Regions from separate parts of the Homo sapiens genome. Here region 2 is linked to region 1. The links come from fine-mapping of genetic effects on gene expression. Tissue or cell type: whole blood. Region 1 holds a variant in brackets; the other region holds the start of a gene. All regions are shown on one strand. Distances are from middle to middle.

Region 1 (8,109 bases):
GAGTACACATGGATGCAAAGAAGGGAACAACAAACACCAGGGCTAATTTTGGGTGAACAATGGGATGAGGGTGTATTAGCTAGTTTTCACGCTGTTGATAAAGACATACCAAGACTGGGCAGTTTACAAAAGAAAGAGGTTTAATGGACTTACTGTTCCACATGGTTGGGGAGGCCTCACAATCATGGTGGAAGGCAAGGAGGAACAAGTCACATCTTACATGGATGGCAGCAGACAGAGAGAGAGCTTGTGCAGGGAAACTTTTTTTTTTTTTTTTTTTTTTTTTTTTTTTTTTTGAGAGTAAGAGTCTCACTCTGTTGCCCAGGCTGGAGTGCAATGGCACGATCTTGGCTCACTGCGACCTCCACCTCCCGGGTTCATGCCATTCTCCTGCCTCAGCCTCCCAAGTAGCTGGGACTACAGGCACCCGCCACCATGCCCAGCTATTTTTTTTGTATTTTTAGTAGAGACAGGGTTTCACCGTGTTAGCCAGGATGGTCTTGATCTCCTGACCTTGTGATCCGCCCGCCTCAGCCTCCCAAAATGCTGGGATTACAGGCGTGAGCCACCATGCCTGGCCGGAAACTCTCATTTTTAAAAGCATCCAATCTCATGAGACTCATTCACTATCATGAGAACAGTGCAGGAAAGACCTGCCTTCATAATGCAATCACTTCCCACTGGGTTCCTCCCATGACGTGTGGGAATTGTGGGTGTTACAATTCAAGATAAGATTTGGGTGGGGACACAGCAAATCATGTCATTTCACCCTGGCCCCTAGCAAATCTCATGTCCTCACATTTCAAAACCAATCATGCCTTCCCAACAGTCCCCCAAAGTCTTAACTCATTTCAGTATTAACTCAAAAGTCCACAGTCCAACGTCTCATCTGAGGTGGGGCAAGTCCCTTCACACCTATGGCCTGTAAAATCAAAAGCAATTTAGTTATTTCCTAGATACAATGAAGGTACAGGCATTGGGCAAATACAGCCATTCCAAATGGGAGAAATTGGCCAAAACAAAGGGGCTATAGGCCCCATGCAAGTCCAAAATCCAGCAGGGCAGTCAAATCTTAAAGCTCCATAATAATCTCCTTTGACTCTATGTCTCACCTCCAGGTCATGCTGATGCAAAAGGTGGGTTCCCATGGTCTTTGGCAGCTCCACCCCTGTGGCTTTGCAGGGTTCAGCCTCCCTCCTGGCTGCTTTCATGAGCTGGCATTGTGCGTCTGTGGCTTTTCCAGGTGCGCAGTGCAAGCTGTCAGTGGATCTACCATTCTGGGTCCTGGAGGAGACTGGCACTCTTCTCACAGCTCCACTAGGCACTGCTGCTGGGGGTACTCTGTGTGGGGGCTCTGACCCCACATTTCCCTTCTGCACTGCCCTAGCAGAAGTTCTCTATGAGAGCCCTACCCCTGCAGCAAACTTCTGCCTGGACATCCAGGTGTTTCCATACATCCTCTGAAATCTAGGCAGAGGTTCCCACACCTTAGTTCTTGACTTCTGTGCACTTGTAGGCTCAACATCACATGGAAGATGCCAGGGCTTGAGGCTTGCACCCTCTGAAGCCATGGCCTGAGCTCTATGTTGGCCCCTTTCAGCCATGGCTAGAGTGGTTGGGATGCAGGCCACCAAGTCCCTAGGCTATGCACAGCACAGGAACCCTGGGCCCAGCCCATGAAACCACTTTTTCCTCCTAGGCCTCTGGGCTTGTGATGGAAGGGGCTGCAATGAAGACCTCTGATATGCCTTGGAGACATTTGCTCCATTGTGTGGGAATTAACATTTGGCCCCTCATTACTTATGCAAATTTCTACAGCCAGCTTGAATTTTTCCTCAGAAAATGGGATTTTATTTTCTATCACATTGTCTGGCTGCAAATTTTCCAAACTTTTATGGTCTGCTTCCCTTATAAAACTGAAGGCCTTTAACAGCACCCAATTCATCTCTTGAATGCTTTGTTGCTTAGAAATTTCTTCTGCCAGATACCCTAAATCATCTCTCTTAAGTTCAAAGTTCCACAAATCTCTAGGGCAGGGACAAAATACCACCAATCTCTTTGCTAAAACACAATAAGTTCTCATTTCCATTTGAGACCACCTCAGCCTGGACTTTATTGTCCATATCACTGTGGCATTTTGGACAAAGCCATTCCATAAGTCTCTAGGAAGTTCTAAACTGTCCTACATTTTCCTGTCTTCTTCTGAGCCCTCCAAACTCTTCCAACCCCTGCCTGTTACCTAGTTTCAAAGTTACTTCCACATTTTCAGGCAACTTTTCAGCAATGTCCCACTCTACTGGTACCAATTTACTGTATTAGTCCATTTTCACACTGCTGATAAAGACATACCCAAGACTAGGCAATTTACAAAAGAGAGAGGCTTAATGGACTTACAGTTCCATGTGGCTGGGGAGGCCTCACAATCATGGCAGAAGGCAAGGAGGTGCAAGTCATGTCTTACATGGATGGCAGCAGATGAAGAGAGAGAGAGCTTATGCAGGGCAACTCCCGTTTTAAAACCATCAGATCTCGTGAGAGTCATTCACTATATGAGAACAGCACAGGAAAGACCCACCCCCGTAATTCAGTCACTTCCCACTGGGTTCCTCCCACAACACCTGGGAATTGTGGGAGTTACAATTCAAGATGAGATTTGGGTGGGGAGACAGCCAAACCATATCTGAGGGTGAAGATCAAAAAATTACCTATCAGGCACTATGCTGATTACCTGCGTGACAAAATAATCTGTATCCCGAACCCCTGTGACACACAGTTTACCTATATAACAAACCTGCACATGTATCCCTGATCTTAAAGTAGAAGTTAAAAAAAAAAAGAAAAGAAAAAGAAAATGAACAATCTCTGTAAGGAGCAGTAGAGAAGAGGAAGGAAGGCCTAAGTAGGTGATTCTCAACTGGGCTGGCATCAGAATCAACTGAGGAACTTAAAAAAATAAACCACAGGACTCATATATTCAGGCCCCAAACCCAAAGAGGCAAAGAAAGGCTGGAGTGCCTGTATGTTTTTTTTAAAAAGTTTTTGCAGTAATTCTAAAACACAATGAGGAATAAGAAGCTCTGACTATAACCCAAAGAAACATTTTTCCATTAAACAACAACATTAAAGTGCCATCAATGGAATTGAAAAAGAGACTAATGGAAAGTTAGAGGCAAAAATATTCAGGGTCCCATCACAAACATTTGGAGAAAAGGAAATTCTAACACAGAAGTATTGAGTAGTGTCGAAAACAGCAGTGTGTTTGAGGAAGCTGACGTGAGCTCTGACAATGAGGAAATTATCATTGCTCTCTGAAACCTT[CTTG/G]GAGAGCTTGCCACTTACCTTACTGGCCATGACCTCCTCTGAGTACCTTCTATAACTTGCAGCCTACCTACTTCTACTGTAGTATGTGTTTCATGACAGACCATGAGTGTTTCATTTTCATCTTTGTGAGATTGTGGACATATTTCTATCCATAGAGCCTAGCACCATGCTTGGATTACATGTACAACAAATGTTTGTGGAATGAATGAATAAAGGAATGAATGAATGAATACATATATTCATGACATAATCACAGGAACAGTTCATCTCTGTGTAATAACAAAAGAAACATGCGAAAAAGGAATGTGGGTAAAGAAACAAAATAGCAATGATTTAAATGGTATTCACATACCTTGCTGTTCTTGCTTGCAACAGTTCTGAGGGTTTGAAGAAGATTCAATTATTAATGTATGGAACATTTGGGCTCCTAAGAGAACATGGTGGAACGGATGAATAATTAATGCTGTTAGTTTTTCTGATTTGTGTCATTATTCTTCTTTTAACTGAGCCAGAGGATGGATTTCCCTGTAAATTATAGATGTCCTCATTTTGGAATGCCATTATGGCCTCCTGAGCTTTGCCCTCACCTAAGCCGGGCCTGTCTTTCTCTACTGTGTTTCCTCCGAGTTTCTCAACCAATGTCTCATTATGCACAGTACAGTGTCACATTAATGTGGTACTTACACAAGCATGGCCTGTATAATGTATATCAAGCATGGTTTATGAAGTATTTACATTCATATAATCTTGGGTACCTGTTAAAGGGCAGCTCTCCAGACCTCTATGAGATAAGACTCTCTGTGGGTAGAGCAGGGCCATTTGCACTTGGCACCTGCAGCTCCAAGGCTCTTCCTCATCATTTAGCATTGCTTTTAATGTTAGTTTGCTTATATTTTTACATATGTATATATTTCTCATAAGAGTGTAAGTTTTCCTCAGGACAGAGATTGTGTTGGTGCACATTAAGTTCTTTTCAAGATAGTTTTTGTCTAAATTAGTTGTAAGAAATTTAGAGCCCAAGTTGTGATATATGTATAAACATAACACAGTGGACTTTTATTGCATGATTGCTAGTGAGAACCACTTTTAAAAATTTAATATTTAATTTCAAACATTACATATATTTTAAATGTTTTAAATGTATTAATCTGTTTAATATTTAAAAAATCATATGAGTTAAATTTCATAACAGGCAACATAACTTAGCAGTTTTGTATGTATGCTCTGCCTGCCTGGATGTGCATTCCAGTGTTGCTGCTTGGCTGTGTAACTCTGGGGAAGTTACTTATCCTCTTTCTGCCTCAGTTTCCTCATCTGTGAAATGGAGGTAGTAATACCTACCTCAGAAGGTGGATGTGAGGATTTAGTGAGTTGAAACCTTTAAAGAATTTGAAACAAGGCTTCACACATAGTAAGTGCTGAATGATTACCTCTTATTATTTTTAATCTCCATTTTACAATTGAAGAAACTAATACATACACAAGTGTGTATATACAAATGTATATACAGTCATTTGCCCTGGTCATATAGCTAGGAAGCCATGGAGCTGGGGCTCCCACTCCAGTGGTGTGCCTTTGTGCGATTCCCCATACCCAGCATGCTGTGTGCCCTTCAATCATTAACTGTAGTATGAGATCCCACTTATTTGGGGGAGTCATAGGGATGGTACGCGTCACTTCTCAGCTGACTGAAAAGGACCACTCAGTTAGCAATACTGAGGCCGTGGATCTCATAGGATTTGCAGGAACCACGTCACATAGCATCAAGATGGCTCTGCTCCACCTGGCTAGCTTCCCTGTCTACTGTGTGCCTCTGTCCTTGGCATTGGAAGGGACACACACACAAAATGTAAAAGGCATTCTTGGCCTCCAGAAATATATGATGTACAATATATAGAGAACAAAATGACCCTGGTAGACTCACAAAGCAGTTAAATAACAGTGAAGTCACAACATCAAGGCACTATCTGAGTAATTAAGTCCCCAGATGAAAGACACTGATCGTGAAAGTACCATAGACATATTCATGGAGAAAGAGAAATTAATTTAGCTGGAGTGGTTTCATGGGGAAGGTAGAATTTAATACAAGGTTGTGGGAATAAGTGGCGTGAGACGGAACAGTGTTTGGGGCAGGGAAGAGAGCTAGGTCTTCAAGGTAGAAAAGCTGCCTCTTTCCTCGGCTTTGGCTTCATCCTGTGAACAGACGTTAGCTTAGTGCTCGTATTTATTTATCTTTCTGTTTGGTACAAAAACTTCCTATTGTTCTAGCTTTCATCAAGTCTTAGGGAATGTGTTATTCTCTTTGTTGCTATTTTTGTATTTTATTCAAGCATGGTAGAGTTCAGATTCCCCAGTAAAACACACAATGGTATTCTTGATAAGCTTCCAGGACTGTTTTTTCGGTCACTTGAAAGGCCACAGAACTCTGCAAAAAAGGTAGTGAAATCCAAACAAATCCAAGCGTACAGACCACTCCCTCAAACAGCAGAAACTACTATTAATTATTTGGTCCATACACCTGTAGATTATTTCTAATTACATTATTTACTTCATTTAACAGAACAGATATGGAAGAGTCATTTGTACGCAAATATCCAAAAAGAAAAAATTAAGGAGACGCATTTATAAGAATTAATGTTGTAGAGCCTTTTAGATGCATTGAAATGTTTTAAAATACTATCTTTTATTAGGCCTATGCAAAAGAAATATTTTTGGAACAATTATTTTGCAGTAAACTGAGAAGAAAATATCTGATCTGGTTCCATTTACATTATACTTAGTCTCATAATTATAAAGGGACTAAGTTGTAGCTGGCATTTCCATTATAAACAGATTTTATGGTCCTTTAATAAATGGTTCTAGTTTGAAGAGTGACCAAGAAAACACAAATCCTTATTTTTTAAATCCAAATGGACTGATTCAATACAATGTCAGAATTTTCCAAGTTGCTTTTCATAATTTTGTCTCTTTCTGTTACTGTGTATGTCACTGACATTTCCTACTGACGGCAGAACCATTTCATCTTTTACTCATTTGGTTTTAGCACAGGAGCCCCTGAAAATTAAAGAGTTGACACAAGAATTCTCAATTCACTGAGGGCTGTGGTCTAGCTTTCAGTTAGAGGTGATTTCCACTCGGGACAGCTGTGACCCTCAGGTTTTCAGCAGCTCATTAGCTGCAGCTTCTATTTCAAACTGAAGCCAATCAGAATACTAGTTCTGTTATTTGTGTGCCAGTTTGGATTAGGGGCAGCCTATACAAATAGGACAGGGTAACACCCCCTTCAGATAGGCATGGGCAATTAGGTTTGCATAGCTAAAATTAAGTGGTGGTATGTTCATTTCTCTTTCACCAGAAAAAATAGTTGAAGCCAGAAATTCATTATGCCTGTCAGCAGTATGTGTAAACTCAAAATCAAATTCAGCATGGTTTACAACGGAAGGTACAACCTACTTCTTAGTGAAATAAAGGCATAAAATGCCTATAAAAGGAAGTATGTAATTTCCAAAGTATTTATTATCTTATAATTATCTTACATTTTGGTTACTATTAATGATGGTGATTATGCTAAGTTACTAACTTTTATGGAAGACTGAACAGTAGCCAGGTGATGTGCTAACAATCACATGCTAATCAGCCCGCATGTGAGAAAGGATTTGTTATCAACATCAAGGTTTTCCTTACATCCCTGAAATCATACCACGTATTTGCTTATTTATTCCATCAACATTTATGGCTAACCCTAACTGCCATCAGGAAATGTTGAAGCCTGTAGAAATATAAGCATTGCATGTAACTGAGCTGTAACCACTAAAATATCTTCATAGAATCCACATAAAACTAGATTAGAATAATTAACATTACATAAATGCATGCATACTTACTTTAGAGACTGCTTTCATATCATTGTCTCATTTTAGTATATATAATAAGGGCCAGTGTGGTATGGACTCATTTTCACAGGTAAGGGAGCTGAGTCTCAGGGAGATTAAGGGACTTGCTCAGGTTTATTAACTGGCTGAGCTGGGACTCACACTCTGATTAAAATCTCATTTTCATGATCTTTCCATGATGTTGGATCCTGTGGCTTCCTGGCACAAGCTGAGCATGGAAGCCTGCTGCTATCTAGAAATATACACCTGATCCCATGAGAAGTGCTATCATATCACAGCCAACGTGGTCTCATGGGATCAGGTGTATATTTCTAGGTAAGCCTAAGACTGGCCCAGTTCCAGCTTGGAGGATTCTGACATGCAGATCCTTAGTTCCCCTGCGTGGGGCAGTGTTGATCAGCCCAGAGTAGCACTCTGGCACACTGGATAGGAGTGTGGGGACTACATAACTGACAAAGAGTAGGAAAATATTTAGGTAAAATTATGCTTTTGGATTTTAACCCTAAAGCTCCTTACATTGTTGAGTGAGAGAAAAAAAACCACACACCTGTATTTGAAATACACATGCCCGTTCTATGGAACTTTTTGGATTCTACATGACGGTTATAACAGTCTTTATTGCTAATAAATATGAAACTATTTTCTCTTATCTTATCTATCAAATGATCTTTCCAGCTGGGCATAGTGGTCCATGCCTGTAATCCTAGCACTTTGGTAGGCCCAGGTGGTCAGATTGCTTGAGCTCAGGAGTTTGAGACCCACCTGGGCAACATGGTGAAACTCTGTCTCGAAAAATTAGCTGGGCATGGTGATGCATGCCTGTAGTCCCAGCTACTTGGGAGGCTAAGGTAGGAAGATTGCTTGAGCCCAGGAGGTTGAGGCTGCAGTGAGCCAT
Region 2 (8,109 bases), 220 kb after region 1:
CAAAGATTAACCTTTGTTTTTTGAGACTGTAGAGCTTTGAGGGCCATTTTTAGATTTTTGTCCCACAGAGACTGTTTCAGTTTTGGAAAATCCATCCCTGAGCTTGTCAGACGCATTGAAATATACCAATCTCAAGTGCAGTTGACTAGTTGACATATCTTCTTTTGTAGGTATTTGATAAATATCCATTATTTTCATTGTTGCAGATTTCTTTTTGTATTTCAAAGCAAAACTTATTTTTCAGCTCCCAAACATGTTTTTGGCCCTGAAAGAGCCCTTAATCCCTGTCCCCAGGTGCCGTGTCTGCAGTGGTTACTGGAAAAAATGAGCCTGGTTGCCTCCCTTCAGCATGTGTAAAGCTTGATATTTGACAGCAGTATCACCTCCAATGAGCATTTGCTGGTGGTTAGATCTAATCAGGTTTATAGATTCCTGCCACAGGCCTTCAGAAGTCCAACTTATTTCTTTTTTAAGATTCCAGTATTTCTTGGGCTTTGCTTTAATCCACATATAAGTGTCATGTCACCTTCTGAGGGCCTTCAGGGAAGGACGTGACATGTGCTTTATTCCATGAGCTCACTTTTGGACTTCTCAAAGATTTCTTAGAAAATACTATCTTGTATATTTTATCAGGTAGTCAGAGATAATTGAGCAAATCAATACTACCAAGCACAGAAATTATTTTCTTAGTGTCATGCCTGGCAGCAGCAAACAAACAAAATGCCTACCATGTGTCAGATTCTCATGGTCCTGGACACTGTCACGTTCATTCTGTCATTTAATATTCCTAATAACTCTTTGAAGTCGAGATAATAATCTCCAATTTGCAACTGACAAATCTGAGACAGAGATTCAAGTGAGTTGCCTAAACCCAGGTAGAATAGGAGAGAAATTCCAAGTGCCCCTAACAGCAGTGCTACTGAGACATTCAAGACTTTAATTTTTTTATCTTTCTTACTTTGGTAAAAATATCTTACGTGTCTGAAATAATCTTTTTGTATTCGATGTGGTGTTAAATGCATCTGTGACTATTCGTACACTTGTAAATAGTTGTGGAAACCTAATTTGATCTTGCTTCTAAAGAAATTATAACTGGATGTAGAAAAAAATGGGACAATAAGTCTTTTAAATTGTAAGCAACAATTTCTTGCCTCCCACATTCCCAGTGTAGCTTTTTCCGCCTCTATAACTCAAAGAACACGACTGTCTTCCATTAGAATAAATTGTTTTTGTCAGCACGCTTTTCCCTGTGCACTTCTTGAATTTGCTTTTCTATTTCCTTGTTTAAAAATAGCTCCATGATGAGCCTATATTTCAGCTTTGATATATTTTATGAGTGGAAAGGAAATTACAGATATTATATCACTTAATATTACTGTGTTAACAAAAATGTAAACTCTTAGAGGGCAGGTATTTTTGTGTGTTGTGTGCATTGCTATGATCTCTGTGCCTAAACTGTGTTTAATACAATAAAAGAACACACAAAAAAATTTAATCAGTCATAAGATACATTAGTTTTACTCTCTTCTAGTATCCTTGCATTGGCCTTCAAAACTGTACCCATTTCTCGAATAACTCCCAGTAAGTCCTTCCTTTGTAAATGGTCCTATATAAGGTAAACAAAGTCTGACTATGTAGTTGGAGTTACTGCCTGAGTTTTACATATATCCTAGACTTGGTCTCAGTCACAGATTAATGAGCATTCACTAAGAGTTGATGTAGACCATGATCTCTAAGAGCACAATAATTCTAACTGTCTTTTCTTGGTCAGCTCTGCCTAGCCATCACTAGCACAATGCCCAGCACAAAGTCACCACTCAGTAGATATTTGTCAAATCAATAAATAATGACAGAATCCAAAATCGTAATAATTTATCCCAGTGCTCAGCACTGACTATATGTTTAATAAATATTTATTGAATTTCATTGAATATTGTGCTTAAAGAGAGAATCATGCCATGCATTCCAAATTAAGTAGGCATTACATTTGAATTATCAGCTGTTTGGGATTATCTGTGTGGCTCCTCCCCACTGTTAGGGTGGTAAATTGAGATCTTACTCCATCAGCAAACTCCCCAAATCTGCCTAGTATTTGGTTTCCACAAGACTAGTTTACTAATTCTAACGATGGCATATTTAATTTTAAAACTAATGCATACCATGATATCATATACTGTCCATTACTATTCCAATAATAAGAACTCTTTTTCAGAGCAGCATATTAGTTATTTACTAACTGGTCCCTTCTTTCCTTTTCTTTCTTCTTTTTTCTTTTGTTCATTCATTTTTTTCTTTTCTTAATTCTGAATGTCACATAAACATATAAAGGCCTAAAGGCAAGGATCTTGACAATATTGCAAGGTGTATTAGGGTTCTCTAGAGGGACAGAACTAATATGTATATAGGGAAGAATATATACATACATATATATATTTATATAAAGGGAAGTTTGTTAAGTATTAATTCACACAATCACAAGGTCCCACAATATGCTGTCTGCAAGCTGAGGAGCAAGGAGAGACAGTCCAAGCCCCAAAACTGAAGAACTTGGAGTCCGATGTTCGAGGGCAGGAAGCATCCAGCTCGGGAGAAAGATGTAGGCTGGCAGGCAGGGTCTAGAAAAGTCTAAGAACAGTGACTAGACAATCAGCTTAAGAGGACAGACACTTGACTTTATGTTTATAACATATGGTCCATCTTCTTGGCTCTTGAGTTACCTGAATTGCATCATGTCAAGATGACGCAGGCTTCCAGATTATAGTCACTTCTTCCCTCTAGTTCCCGTAAGAATTAAAATGATTTGACTTTAGTTCCAACAAACATAACGTAACATTAATGTGCTTCACATTAGGTCAAATGAGTCTAAAAATACACACACGCACACTACATACCCACACACAAATATGCACAAACGTATCTTAAATAGATAGCCAATTGGTGAACACTCCAAAACAGAAAGATCATACATTTCTAGTGTTTCTTTGCCTTATGACTGGCAGATTCTTTGTAACACAAATCTCTCAGTGGGAATAATTTTCAAAGTATATAATATGAAACCAGTTGTTTCTGAATAAAGCAATCAAATAGAATTATAGCAGATGCCATCTATGGGGGTGGAAATGGTGCCACCAATACAGATACCACCACTTAAGTAAAGGAGAAAAATGTTTAAATAAGTACATGGCGTCATCTTGTTAACATAACTATACTACATTAGTTGTCAGTAAATTTAAACTGTTAAACATTAACATATTAATCACTATATAAATAAATACAAGATATGAAATACTCAAGAAATTGAAAAGTTTAATGCATGGCCAAATTCTTCCATAACAGGGAATATTTTTATTACAGACATAAAGAAATTTAACTTAAATTAAAAATTTTAGTCTCTTTTATTGATAAAAGTCTCTTTCCATTATCAACAAGACAATTTTCCTCCCTCTAAGTAGAGTTTCACAAATCTCTCAGCTGAGTCATTATAAAGATCTTTTGGTGTGCTCTTTTTTATTTGAAATATCTCTTGCTTGAAATTAAATTCAGTCCTAAAATAGCAACTATATCACCTCCTATCCACTTCCCATTAGTAACAGCAAACTCCAGAGATTAGCAGAACAGCATTCATGTGTCTGGAAAAGGAACCTTATGGATGATTTAAGCATAAGACCTGGCTACTTACTAAGGAGCAGTACACACATATTTGTAAATATTAATGCCAGACAAAAATGAAATCTGACAAAGGTGAAATCATTGTACTGTACAGACTAACCTAAGCAGAGTTCCAATTTTGCCTTTCAACATTATATCTTGCAGGGTTGTATAAGCAATAAGCTCATTAACATCAGTGTAACTGTCCCCGAAATACAAGTGGATTCTGGAGAATGTAGGTAGTACAAATGAGCTCTCTTCAACGTTAAGGTTTATAGCAACTGATTCTTCAGAGAACATGAAGCCTTATGCTTGAGATAAATTTCCTCATCTGCTGTCATGATTGACAGGTCCATTTGGTTTGTTTTATGGGGGAAGGGAACAGGACTGGGGCCTGACTCAGGGCACAGTCCTCAGGTTTGGGGCTCTTTTGTATGACTGCCCACAAGTGCTATCTACTGTCACACCTCTTTAAACCTGCATTTTCGGATTTTAACATCAGCAACCAATGCTCTTCTCTGAGCCTCAACACAGTTATTCTTTAAATACAGTTCTATTTCCTTGGTGAAGTCTCCTTTGAGGTACTAAATTTAGCACTGTCAATCAGAAGAACAGGTGGTATGTGACACTACCAAATAGGTCCTCTCCCATCATGCTTTCCTAAGACAGCCAATCACCCAGGGCCCTGCCTAAGGATGTGGGGCTGTCAGCAGATCTGGTGAATATAAGGGCAGGCCAGACCCTGGCTCTTGAGCAGTCGTGCATTCCCAGCCTCGCCTCGGGTGTAGGGATTGCATAGAAAAGCAAAACTACACAGTCTTGACTGTGTAGTTTTGTTTTTAGGATTAGAGGCTCACCGATTCATGTCGGAGATGGTCAGAAAAACCAACTCTCCATAGGACGTCGTTTCAGAAGCAACCTTGGGCTTAGTCCCACCCTTTTTAGGCACTCTTGAGAAATCAGGTGAGCAGCAACTTTTCTTATTTTAATAGTAGAGTCACTTTCTTATTGATCTCTGGCTCTGGATTATTTGTGTGTGCTAAATGCCTATGTACAAGTGTTTGTATGACTATTTCTTGCCAGTGCTGACCCATTATTTAAATCTGCTTGTTAAATTCTATTTTAAAATGTCTGAACATTTTTCCTTAAAAAGTTGAAAGCTTTATTATATCAGCTAAATGATTCCATGATTCAAATTGTTTAAGTTCACTTAATATTCTAAAAGTTGAGGTCTGAAATGTTGAGAGAAATGTTTACTTCTTTTCTAGACTCTCTTTGCCTGTTGAGAATGTTCAAGGTTATATTACTCAATGATAAAGTTAAGCACACCAAGAATAGCTCTGATAAAATGCATGTGGTATCAGCTACACCCTGATGACTTTTTAAGGGAATCAACTGCTGAGGTATCAGTTGCAGGACAGTGACAGAACACTTGCCTGCTGTCAGTCAACCTTGGAGAGTTTAGGAGAGTTTATTTTAAGAGCATGACATTTTAGACGCATACCTTCAGCCCCAGTTAGACAAAGGCCTGTGAAGAGCAAGTGCTAAGGCAATAAAATTTACCTAGACAATAGGAATGTAAGATCAATTTAAGCTGGTTAATTGCAACATAGTTGGAGATTTGGAATAAAATGATATAATTGTTTTCTAAAATATTCAGAATCTCTTCATGCATTTTAACTCAGCACACAGTCCAATTATATATTTTGAGATAAATGTTGACACTAAGAAGGGTAAGAAATAATGTTTAAAGGAAAGGTTTCTTACTTCTAAATACACTTTGATTTCTCATCTTCCTAGAATTTGATTACTAATTGTCAATGCCTGTAAATACATAGATATATAATTAGGTATTCTATGTCTAAGAGGACAGCTATTTTTAGATATACTAACTTATAAACAGACAAAGTTAGACACAGAAAGTTGTTCATCCCAAAGATAATATGCTACAAAAAGGAGTTTCTGACAAAAAAAATTTATGAAAGCTTTTGGATATTATCTGATTTTTCCAAATATAAATTTTATTGTCTCAGAGAATGCTGGTTTCATTTTTTTAACTAAGTAGAAGGTTACAGTAAGGAACAGAATTATCACTAAGAAGATTATTGCTCCATGAAGTTTTAGTAAACAAAGAATTTAATGAAAAATAGTAATGAAGTGATTGACAATTCAGAAATGTTCTATTTCAGAACAGAATAGTCATGTTGAATAATTAGGTATTTATGCATCAGAAAATTCTTCACATAATGTCTCTGAAACTGATAGGCAAAGTACTTTCTTGCACTTAACAAAATGACTTAACTGCAAATTTTATATTCGTTTCTTTGATGTTGAATATTTTACTTTATGAAAGCATAGGCCTTTTCACTTCATCTACATTTTACACCAGCCTTCCATTATTCAAAGTTTGCAAATTGTTCCATATTAAGAACTCAAGCCAGCATTTTTCTTTCAGAACTATAATAAACTTTGGCCTGTTCACTAAAATTTAAATTTTTCTGAATATTTACTTCAGCAGTAACAACATTTACTGCACAGTTACAGTATGAAGAAATGTTAAGAAATAGAAAGCACCGTATGCCGTCTACAAAAAGCTTGCATATTTGATAAGGCTTGCCAAAGCTTCTCCAGTCAGGAAAGAGATTACAAAGTTCAGATTTTTACTTCTGGCAACTATTTTAAGTAATCAGATAATGTCTGAATCAATGTCAACTTTATAAATATAGAGTGAACGAAAAATATTGGGGAGAAGGAAAATTTTTAAAATAATTTTCACTTACTAAGCTGATGCAGAGGTTTATTTATTTTAATTTTTTTTTTTTTTTTTTTTTGAGACAGAGTCTCATTCTGTCACCCAGGCTGGAGTGTGGTGGCACCATCTTTGCTCACTGCAACCTCCACCTCCTGGGTTTAAGCAATTCTCATGCCTCAGCCTCCCAAGTAGCTGGGACTACAGACATGGGCCACCACGCCTGGCTAATTTTTGTATTTGTAGTAGAGACAGGGGTTTCACCATGTTAGCCAAACTGGTCTCAAACTCCTGACCTCAAGTAATCCTCCCGCCTCGGCCTCCTAAAGTGCTGGGATTACCAGCATGAGCCACCACGCCAGGCCCAGAGGTTTATTTTACATTTATCACATGTCTTGTCTCTCTAATTACACTTCACTAACCCTGCATTGCTGTGGTTTTCTTCTTCAACTCTGAACCTGGTTTTCCACCATTGGTAAGACTGTATATTCCCTCTTTGACCACTAGGGTTCATTCCTTGTTCTGTTTGGCTAATACTTTTTTCCATTTCCCCTTACACTTGCTACTTTGGGTTAGGCTTTAAGTCAACTCAATGATGAACTATGCAAAACTGTTCAAGCCACAAAAGAGAAGACCTGCCCATCACTCTAGGCCCACAGATGACCTATGGAGCAATCCATTTGGAGAAACGTGTGTCTCTGCTATCTGCAAAGCAGCTCCAGAGTGACCCTTAGCTGGGACACCCTAATTTATTTTCTCTTCTTTTTCAGAGTGCCTAGAAAGATGACAACTCAAGCACCGACGTTTACGCAGCCGTTACAAAGCGTTGTGGTACTGGAGGGTAGTACCGCAACCTTTGAGGCTCACATTAGTGGTAAGCTCACACATTCACACTTTTGTTTTTTTTTCCTTTGCCTCCTCTCCAGTAAGTTAACGTTGCTGCAGGACTTGACGCCAAGTTTAAGCCCTGCTTTCACTTCGGAAAATTAGTCCAACACTATGGAAAGGTCATTTTAAGGGTATACCATTCACAGAGTACTGACAAAATCTGACAATATAATGGCTTGAAATGTTTTATTCATATTTATTATTCCACAAAGCAAAAATAATTAGTGTTGGATTAAAATTGCCGTTAGAATCCAGCAACTAAATAGGACCAAATTTAGTCATTCTATATTTGGGCTCAGCTGCAGAGCCAGACTGGAAGCCAAGAACTCAAGCCCAATAGAAGCCAGCCACAGAGCCATGGGGTAGGCAGTCTGGGCTGCCTGCTCTGGACACCTGAACTTCAGTTGGTTCACACGCAAAATAACAGTGCATCTAATTTTCCTCAGAGGCAGAGCTGTTCAGTAATTAACCAACTCCTCATTATTTTATTATTTTATTTTCAATCTTTATTGAGTGATTCTAATGAATTAAAAGACTTTCCAATCGTTTTGAAATGACAGAAAATAATATGCTTCTCGGGTGTCTCTATTTAAAAGGAAGCAAACACTAACCCTAGAATTTTATCTGAAAGGAAGTTCATCTCTTTTTTGCCTTCTTTTTCTTCCTCATAACTCAGTTTATGGATGGTTCAAAAAAATGCATGGTATCATCTTATGAAAAAATGGAGAGTAGTGTATGAACTATATTGTAAATAATTTTAAAATTAATCAATATTTTCTCTTTCTGTAGTATTGTAACGAGCCATGTAAGATGGATACGGATTA

Evidence for each region. PIP is the estimated chance that this variant, and not a neighbour inherited with it, causes the effect.
Region 2: it holds the start of TTN, and the variant in region 1 is fine-mapped to the expression of TTN in whole blood (TOPMed, PIP above 0.99).

What each region holds. Positions count from the first base shown.
Region 1 is chr2:179,019,834-179,027,942 of GRCh38, reverse strand. The region is part of intron 2 of CCDC141 (coiled-coil domain containing 141); the gene reads left to right. Among named protein-coding and RNA genes, the nearest start is that of CCDC141, 26 kb to the left of the region's middle. The variant CTTG/G (reference allele first, on the strand shown) is at 3,319.
Region 2 is chr2:178,803,714-178,811,822 of GRCh38, reverse strand. It overlaps TTN (titin), which reads left to right and starts at 4,400. Exons shown (of 363, transcript NM_001267550.2): 1 at 4,400-4,611; 2 at 7,168-7,271. The coding sequence starts at 7,181.